Homo sapiens: one gene and its partner. The protein of the gene in region 1 interacts with the protein of each later gene in a pairwise test. Each region holds a gene or a part of one and is shown in the gene's direction. Other genes may lie near its edges. The genes, in order: CD164 and NBPF19.

Region 1 (4,506 bases):
GTCTGGGTGCCAGATAGTCAAGTGTTAAATATAGAGAGAGGCCTCCTGAGAGAAGAGCAGACACTTCTCTGAAGGGCTTATGGTGGGAGCTCACTTCCCTGACAGCATTCTCATGCTTCTGGGCTGGATCAGTCAAAACTATCAGCTTTTTGTTTACATCCAAGCAACACTACTCCAACTAGCGTAGTCATTGGAACAAATGTTCATAGTCCTGAGGGTACAGAAGGACGACACTGAAAAGATCCCAAGGGGAAATAAAATCTTTCTATTTGAGCAAAAAGGTAAAAGCACTATGTAGTCATCTTTTTTGGCACATCAAAAAAGTCATCGTGGCACATCAAGACAGACCTCACGAAAGCAATTAATATTCCTATATTATTAGGATAACTTTGCATAATTAAAATTACATAAGTGTACAACAGCTGAAAACACAGCATTAAATACAACTTTTAAAGTCTAATTTTTACCATGTGATAACCGTATCAAATTTTGCGAATATTTTGTGAGACTTGGCAGTAGATGGCGCTCACCTTTACTAAAAGTCTGAGCAGCGCCTTAACACTAACAGGAACTTAAGAATCCAGCTCTGATGTCAGGCAATCCCGTGTCCAGGTCAGGTCACTTTTTTAAGTCTCAGTTTCCTCACTGGTAATGTGGGGGTGGGGGCCTCCCCAATGACCTCGCAACTCAGACCGCTTTTGATTCTCTGACTACAGTGGTGGAGTTGAGACAGGTCGGCTGCTGCAACCGCCGTCTGAAATAGCAATCCGGAAAAGTCAGGTTGGGAAAGTGACAGAGTAGACGCCCTGCGGCTCTGATCCGGGCGGCGCCTCAGCTGCCCACACTATGTGGGCGGCAACGCACAAACTCCTTAACCACGTGGTGCCTCCATTCCCCTAGGGAGTCCCATCACAGGATAACTTCTAGCAAAATCAATCTTCAAGAAAAAAAGAAGGGGTCCTGCCGAAGATATAAGGAAGCTCCCTGGGGATCCCGCAGCACAGCACAAACTTAGTTCTTGAGAGCCGCACAAAACCAACTTCCGCCCCAGTGGAGTTGCGTCCGGAAGGCGCGGCCCCGGAGGTCACGTGGGCCCGCGGAATTACAGCCTGGCGGGGCGCTCAGGTGGAAGCAGTAGGCCACATTATGTCGACTGTTCCATGCAAGTCAGGGTGGGGGCCGTCCCTATCGCAGGCATGAGACAAGTCCAGCTGCGTCGTGTCTGGTAATCTGAGGGCAAGAAGAACGATTTGCAGAAGCTCCCAGTTTTCTTGGCTGTGGCACAGTCGCTTTGAGGGCCAGGTTCCTTCGGCTTCCTCCCGACTCCCCTGCTTCCCCCCGTAGGATTCCCGTTGGTATCGTCCGAGCCCCACCTCCCTCCTCTTCGCCCCCGCACGCCGAAAACAGGGGCCTCTCACGTGACCCCTGCGCGCTCCCGCGGGGGAGCGTAGTCTCGGAGGCGGCGCCGCAGGGGATTGAGGGGTTGACTGAGCGTTGCGAGCCTTAGCTTTCTCCCGAACGCCAGCGCTGAGGACACGATGTCGCGGCTCTCCCGCTCACTGCTTTGGGCCGCCACCTGCCTGGGCGTGCTCTGCGTGCTGTCCGCGGACAAGAACACGACCCAGCACCCGAACGTGACGACTTTAGCGCCCATCTCCAACGTAACCTCGGCGCCGGTGACGTCCCTCCCGCTGGTCACCACTCCGGCACCAGGTGGGCGCGGGCCCTGTGGGCTTCCCGCCCTCCCCTGCCCAGCCGAGCCGCACTGCCTCCTCGCCGTGCGGGCGGGGCCCGGGTTCGGGCCACGGTCGGGCGGGCGGGCCGCGCTCGGGGTGCGGCGGCGACTCCGGCAACATGGCGGCCAGCCTGGAGTCCACTCGTGGCCGGGCCGGGTGGGGAGCGCGCTGGGGGGAAGCGGACGCGCGGTTCCCAGTGGCTGCGGGGCTGGGGCCCCCCTCGAAGTGTTGCAAGTCGAGGTGCCTTTTAAAAGTGCATCGTAATTCCTAGCCTCACTTGGGGTCGGAAATGGGGACGTGGCTTCCTTCCGCGGGGGCAGCGGTGGGGTTGAGGATGGGGCCGGGCGTCGCGCCTCTGAGGTTGGCGGTGGGGCCGAGCTGCCTCTCCCTGCCACTGGTTGTTCACCCTCCCGGCGCCTCTCTCCGGAGGTAGCCTTCTCCGGAAGTCCGGGAAAGAGAAACTTAAAGACGGTAATGCTCGTTCGTGTCTCAGACTTGAGTCTGAGAAGGTCGCTTGAGATTTAATTACATTGGTTTTGCAGATAGGAATAGAATGTAGCTGACGTTTGAGCACGTAGTTAGTGAAAACTTCACACTTCAAAGTATGCGAAAAGGAAGAAAAGTACCCATGTATGTACCGGGTGTTTTGCGTACGTATCCTAAGGCTAAACTGGAAGGTAGGTAGTGAAACCTAGGAGGTAGATGCAGAGACGGAGATGAGTAAACTCTCCTGACATTGTATGTTTATTCTTTTTTCAATTGTTTTTAAAATTTTCTTAACTATGTCCTGTGCTCAGATAGCGTATGTTTAGTAGGTCGTGGAACGGGGGTTTGTGCCCAGGTCTGTGGGTTTTCTAAAACCCGATCAGGAGCGTGTCTTTTGTTATGTGCAGTCGCATAGGGCTGGTTAAGGCATACATACATTTTAAAGCAGAAATTGCCATATACCGTGACAACACAAAAGAGAGAAGGAAGATAAGTTTGAGGTAATAAGCGGGAGAAACACTAGAGGTTTAAAACCTGCAGTCTCGTATGATTGGTTATTCTAGTTAACATTAGTTAAGGAGTAATGTTTACGTAGTTAACATTGGCTTCTTGACCGAAGAATGCCGAAGTGTAATGATTTTTATCACGGCATTCATATTCTACAAATTCTCCTCTAGTTTTAGTATTTTATAAAAGTTTAATAAAGTATATAGTAAACTTAATGTTTTGTTTTTAGTTTAAGGAAGATGTAATGGTAACATTTCAAAACGAGGGAAGTAAATTGCAGTATAATACTGGGAATTCTAACCGCACTATTTTAAGATGATAGAGCAGAATATGTTTGTCTCAGTCTTAATTTGACAGTTTCCTTTCAGAATTGTAGTGTGTGTGTAAGAGAAGGTTGGAAGTATCAAATTAATTTGTCTTTGTGTAATTGAAGTGCGTGCAAAGGAGGTATGTATTTTCTGGAAATCATAAGTGGATGTAGTGTGGTCTGAAAGGTAGCAAGTTTAGTTCATTGTAAAGAACATTTCAGACATTTCACTTTGCTACACCCGTCAAGCACAAAGGTTTTTAAACAGCATGTTTTATCTATACAAACTTCAGAAAATTTATTTTTACTTTATGAACCCTTCCCCACCCCACCGTACATGTCCCAGTCTTTAATAAGTACTAATGATGAAGTATTGAAAGCAGTGCCTCTGCAGAACTATTTTTTAGGCAGGAGCAAAGCAAACGAGAATGTTTGGAGGCATCTAGTTTCTAGGAAAATGAATGGAGCCCAATTCTTTTTTTTCTTTTATTTTGCTGCTTTTTCTCACTGGAAAATAGAGCCCAATTTTATAGTCCGTTCTTCTCCAGAAATTGAATTATGGTGATGAGTACTTGTTTCTGGATTGTTTGGCCTAGGATGAACTATTGACAAATACCTTGTTAACCTGAATTGTATGCACTTGAATATGGGCTTTTAGATGTTGTCTCCAGTTGTGGAGGATCCTGTCGAGAGTGGATCATTTATGAATCGAGAATCCCTGGGAAATTATCTTTGTTTGCAGCAGAATGGGCATCATCAGTGCTTGGGTTCAACCTGTTAAACTACTACTGTTACTACTAAAAATCTCAGGGTTTTATCTGATGTTTGGGGGTAGTGGTTTTCCTATGTGTAGTGTTGGTATTATATCAAAGCCTTTTTCTCGATATTTTTATGTATTAAGGATGCTTTGAAATGCCTAAATCCTTAGTGGCTGTGGGTGTCTTCCAATAGTTGTCCTGTGAAAAAGGATTGGTTAGACAGATACCATCAGGCACTGTACTGAGAGTGACCACTAGCTTGTTTTTCTAATGCGTTTACTTACAGCTTTGTAATGATTGGAATTTCTTAGTAAACCAGTATAAAGTTTTATCATTTATCTGAATTAGTAATTTTGATGCTGTATGTAATGCTTATTGTTCAAAAAGATAAGTAATACAGATTCAAATAAGATACTAATAAAATCATTGATTTCATGCATCTCTCCCCCCAACTCCCCAGAAACCTGTGAAGGTCGAAACAGCTGCGTTTCCTGTTTTAATGTTAGCGTTGTTAATACTACCTGCTTTTGGATAGAATGTAAAGGTAAGAAACTTTGGGGATGCAAAACTGTTTTGTTATAGCATTTTAAAATACAGTAATTCTTGAACACTTGAAAGTTATGTAGGACATTTAGGATATTGTGCACTATTTATTTTGCAAATCCAGTACTCCTTTAAAGTGCCAGTTGCCTCGCACTCCCCCTGAAAATCT
Region 2 (4,437 bases), on another chromosome or scaffold:
TTAGTGAGAATCATTGGTATTCCATAGAAGAGTGAATTAAACACAGCCAAGGGAAGACCCACGTCTCATACTTCTCTTGTATATTCCAAAGTTCCAGGGAAATTCCAGGTGATAGAGGTTATTTCCCATACTGTTAAAGCAAGGTTTCAGACACTTCTGAATTTTGGTCCCAGTACTCTAGAAGGGCACACCTCTGTCCTGGAAAATAATACAGGAATGAATACTCTTCCCGTGACCCATTCTGGTCATTCTTCCAGCATCACAAAAACCAAAAAATGGAAATATGGCCAAATACGTGATTAGCTGTCCCTCATCTTCAGGTTTCTTATCTGTTACTTATAGATAATAGCATTACCTTAAGGATTATGATGAAGATACAATGTCCAAATATAAACACAGTTTTGAGCAAAATGCCTTGTACGAATTGGTCAATGAATAATTACTAAATATGTGAATATTTACTGGATTGTATGGATCCTATGAATAATTACTGAATAATTATTGTGATTGCTTTTATTGGCAGTGCTGAAAACTCATCCCTTTGTGACCTCAAGTAACCCATGACACTTTGTGAACCTGCAGTTTTTTCATTTAGAAACTTGACAGATTTTCATTCTGACACAGAATGTCAGGTCTCCCAGACCCTAGAAAATACATTGACTTAAAGCCTTTGATACATCTCAAAGCAGTATCCTTACAGTGTCACTGGAAGATGGTGCGGGCTGCAGAGAGGGATGCTTTCAAATGGGATTAACCAGTCCTCCTTCCTTCACTTCCACATGAATGCTGGGCAGCCCAGGGTCAACCCACTGCACCCTCAACTCAGGCAAGTCCAGCAGCCAATCTTAGGAGACCTGGGCTACAGAACAGTCTCTCAAGTTCCAGGCTCACAAAACCTAGGTGGGGATGAAAGCTGAGAAAGCGAAGAGGTGGTTCAGGGGATCACTCTTTCCTACTTGTTCCTCTCACCTCAAACTCACCTTCTACTGCACAGCAACACTGAGGATCGCCAACCAACCCTGACCATAACCTTGATCTTGCCATGTTCTGTTAGTGGAATGCAACCCAAAATCAATGGTGTTAGGTCATCTCAACAAAATATATATCAAACCATATTCCATAAGAACTGCTCGTGGCCCTGTTCTTTTCAGTATATGGGAAAACAAAATGGAAACAACAAAATAGCATCAGGTTTACAAAACTTCCCAAGATAGATGGTCACACATGTTTTCAGGAGACCTCTATATAAATGACTTTGATCACTTGATACCTTGAAAAGAGGTCTTGTGGCACTAGAATGACATCTATAAGTGACAAGTATAAAATGTAGTGCTCAGTGACATTAAAAAACAAATCAACCCACATAGAGGAAGAGCTTTGGACGTAGGGATGTCAAACTGGTCTAGAATGTAATGAAAACCCAAGAAGGTGCCCCAGTAAGAAAGAGGAAATCAATCTAACAATGGGATGCAGCAGCAAGAATACTGAGACAGGAAAGAAAATATTTTAAAAAAATGAATTATTCATTCACTTTCTAGTGGATACAGAAAAAACTGCAGAAGACCCAGAGGATATCAGGGCAGGCTAAAAGTTTGATATCTTACACCTGTGGAAAAGCCTTAAGCTCTGTTTTAACTGAGAGCAGGTGGGGTGACTTCATGACTACCATTAAGAAAATATAACCTGTTGGGAAACTGTTTCTGCCTTGATGATGTTGTACAGACAAGAGATAAACAGTGAGGAATATGCTTAGATGTATTGGGAAAGACATGGGTCTGTGGCATTGTCACAAGGGTACACGAATACTGAGAGTGAATGCTGAAGGAATGATCCCCATTGGTGGTGACCCTCAGGTGAAAGTAGGGTGCCTGTGTTTCAGCAAAGCCTGGGCAATTGGAATGCAGAGCTCCTAAGATTCCATGACACCCCCACCTTCTAATTCTGTTATTGCAACTGCAGACGGTTACCTGGCACGCTGGCCACATTCTGCCTCACTCTTATCAGAGTCTGAGCTACTGGCAGTGCTTTCAGCTCTGAGTTGAGGCACCTCGAACCTTGTTTTTGTGGTGAAGGATCCTAAAGTGCTGTGGGGAGTGATCACATTTTTCACAACAGTAAGTTAAGAATTTCAGTTACTGACATCCCTCAGTCCTGATTAAACCGATTTGATTTCACCAGTTTTTAACCCATCATATGTTTGGGTTTCTTCTCCCCAGTCCCTGACTCCACCTCTTCTGCCACAAACGTCAGCATGGTGGTATCAGCCGGCCCTTGGTCCAGTGAGAAGGCAGAGATGAACATTCTAGAAATCAACGAGACATTGCGCCCCCAGCTGGCAGAGAAGAAACAGCAGTTCAGAAACCTCAAAGAGAAATGTTTTCTAACTCAACTGGCCGGCTTCCTGGCCAACCGACAGAAGAAATACAGTAAGATCTATAGGCTCACCATCATGAAAGTGATGAATGATATCCTGTCTTCTCTCTGAGACACTAAATGCTCTCTCCATCAAAAATAATTTCATCCTTCCTGTACTTCTAGGAAAACAGAAATGGGTATTTTAACATTTTGTTAAAGTTGGAAGACAGAGGTGCCAAAGTATTTAGCAACTTTCCATGTTTGCAATCAGATGGGGGTGGAACTAGAGTTAAACTCACAGTTATTGATTTCTAACACAGGCACAGAATGACCTGTTTTCTCCAAGGGGCTCAATCATGTTTTTAAGAATCCTCTCTGTACCATATAAGATCCTGCAGACAAATAACATCTAGTCTGTTGTTCTAAATGTCTAGGACTAGTGAACTTTTATTCAGTTCAAGTTTCTGTTGAGGCCCAACAGGCAAAGCTCTGTTCTAGTGACTCTGAGGGGAACTTGGTGATAGTAGCCAGTACCTGCTCTGAGGGGCTTCAAGGGGAGTCTGCTCCTAATAGAACCTGTGCTATCTATAAGTGACAGCATCAAGAGCAGGGAGTAGGGGCCGTGCAACGTGGCTCACTCCTATAATCTCAGCACTTTGGGAGGCTGAGGCGGGCAGAGCACGAGGTCAGCAGTTTGAGACTAGCCTGGGCAACATGGAGAAACCCCATCTCCACTAAAAATACAAAAAGTAGATGGGCATCGTGGCGGGCAACTGTAATCACCACTAATCGGGAGGCTGAGGCAGAAGAATCCTTTGAACCCAGCAGGCAGATGTTGCAGTGAGCCAAGATTGCACTATTGCACTCCAGCATGGGTGACGGGGCAAGACTCGTCAAAAAACAAACAAACAAAAAGATAAATAAATCAAAAATAAAAATAAAAAGCAGAGAGTACCTTGGTGAGAGTGAAGTCCTGCTTCCTGGTGCACAGGCTCTTGTTCCTAAAGAGGAAAGATCACACCGGAGAATGTGTGGAAGCAGCAGTGCAGTGTGCAAAGCAGGGACCCTCAGCCTGTCTCCTGGGCTCCATCCAAGTTGCTTGTCTTGTCTGTCCCTCAGTTTCCTCATCTGTTCAGAGGGTACTACAATAATACCTACCTCTGTAAATTGCTGCAATGAATTACATGAGGTATTTCCTGTCAATCTCCTTGAACATTAATTGGCACAGTGGAAACACTATCTATTAGTTCTTCATTCTGATGTTTCTAAATTAACACAAACTAATGCTGTTTCTAAATTAACACAACTAATCTAAATCTTAATGCTGCCTCTCATACTAATAAAGTATTTGGGCATATTTCCTTCATGGCCTTATTGTCTTATATCTCACACTTTATGCTTCAGATATGATTCTTAAAACCATATCTGAATATTGATTTAAAAATGAAATATTTTTAAAGTCCTTGACATATTTGTCCTTGAAATACCCAGTAAAAGGGAAACCATCAGTCCCATAGTCCTAGGGGCCTTCCCGACTGTACAAGAAATCACTACTTCATGCCCCAGTGCAGTGTTTTAGAGGAGAGGCTGCAAGACTTGGGAAAGTGGCCCCGCATTCAGAGTCAGACCTCAGGGGCTGTGAGTTCTGACTCCACTTCGTTGTGGTTGAATCATCTTGTCAACTTCCTTGATGCGCCCTTGAGTTTCTCTTTCTTCGTCTTTAAATTTTGGAGGATCAGATGCCAGAAAGTCAGGAGACTGAAGAATAAAGATGTGGAAATCCCTGTCTAGACCCTGGTACTGGGGAGAGTTTTGTCCTTGGGATGGACCTGGCTCCTGCCCTGTAGGCAGTGACCACAGCAGCATGTCCAGCCTTCCACTGAGGCAGGCGTGTCTGTCTTTTCTCAGAGTATGAAGAGTGTAAAGACCTCATAAAATTTATGCTGAGGAATGAGCGACAGTTCAAGGAGGAGAAGCTTGCAGAGCAGCTGAAGCAAGCTGAGGAGCTCAGGTGAGGGGACCCCGTGGGGGGAGGGCAGGCGGGTAGGTGTGTAGATCTCTGAAGTACAGCAGCTCGGCGGG

What was found.
Region 2: the proteins of CD164 (region 1) and NBPF19 interact in a two-hybrid assay, tested with the Homo sapiens proteins (one large-scale study listed by BioGRID).

What each region holds. Positions count from the first base shown.
Region 1 is NC_000006.12:109,379,411-109,383,916, reverse strand, and holds the start of CD164 (sialomucin core protein 24 isoform 1 precursor), read left to right. Parts: upstream 1-1,449; 5' UTR 1,450-1,538; coding exon 1,539-1,713; intron 1,714-2,177; exon of another isoform or gene 2,178-2,340; coding exon of another isoform or gene 2,341-2,413; intron 2,414-4,254; coding exon 4,255-4,338; intron 4,339-4,506.
Region 2 is NC_000001.11:149,473,682-149,478,118, forward strand, and holds the start of NBPF19 (NBPF family member NBPF19), read left to right. Parts: upstream 1-1,363; 5' UTR 1,364-2,114; intron 2,115-2,216; 5' UTR 2,217-2,251; coding exon 2,252-2,426; intron 2,427-4,263; coding exon 4,264-4,366; intron 4,367-4,437.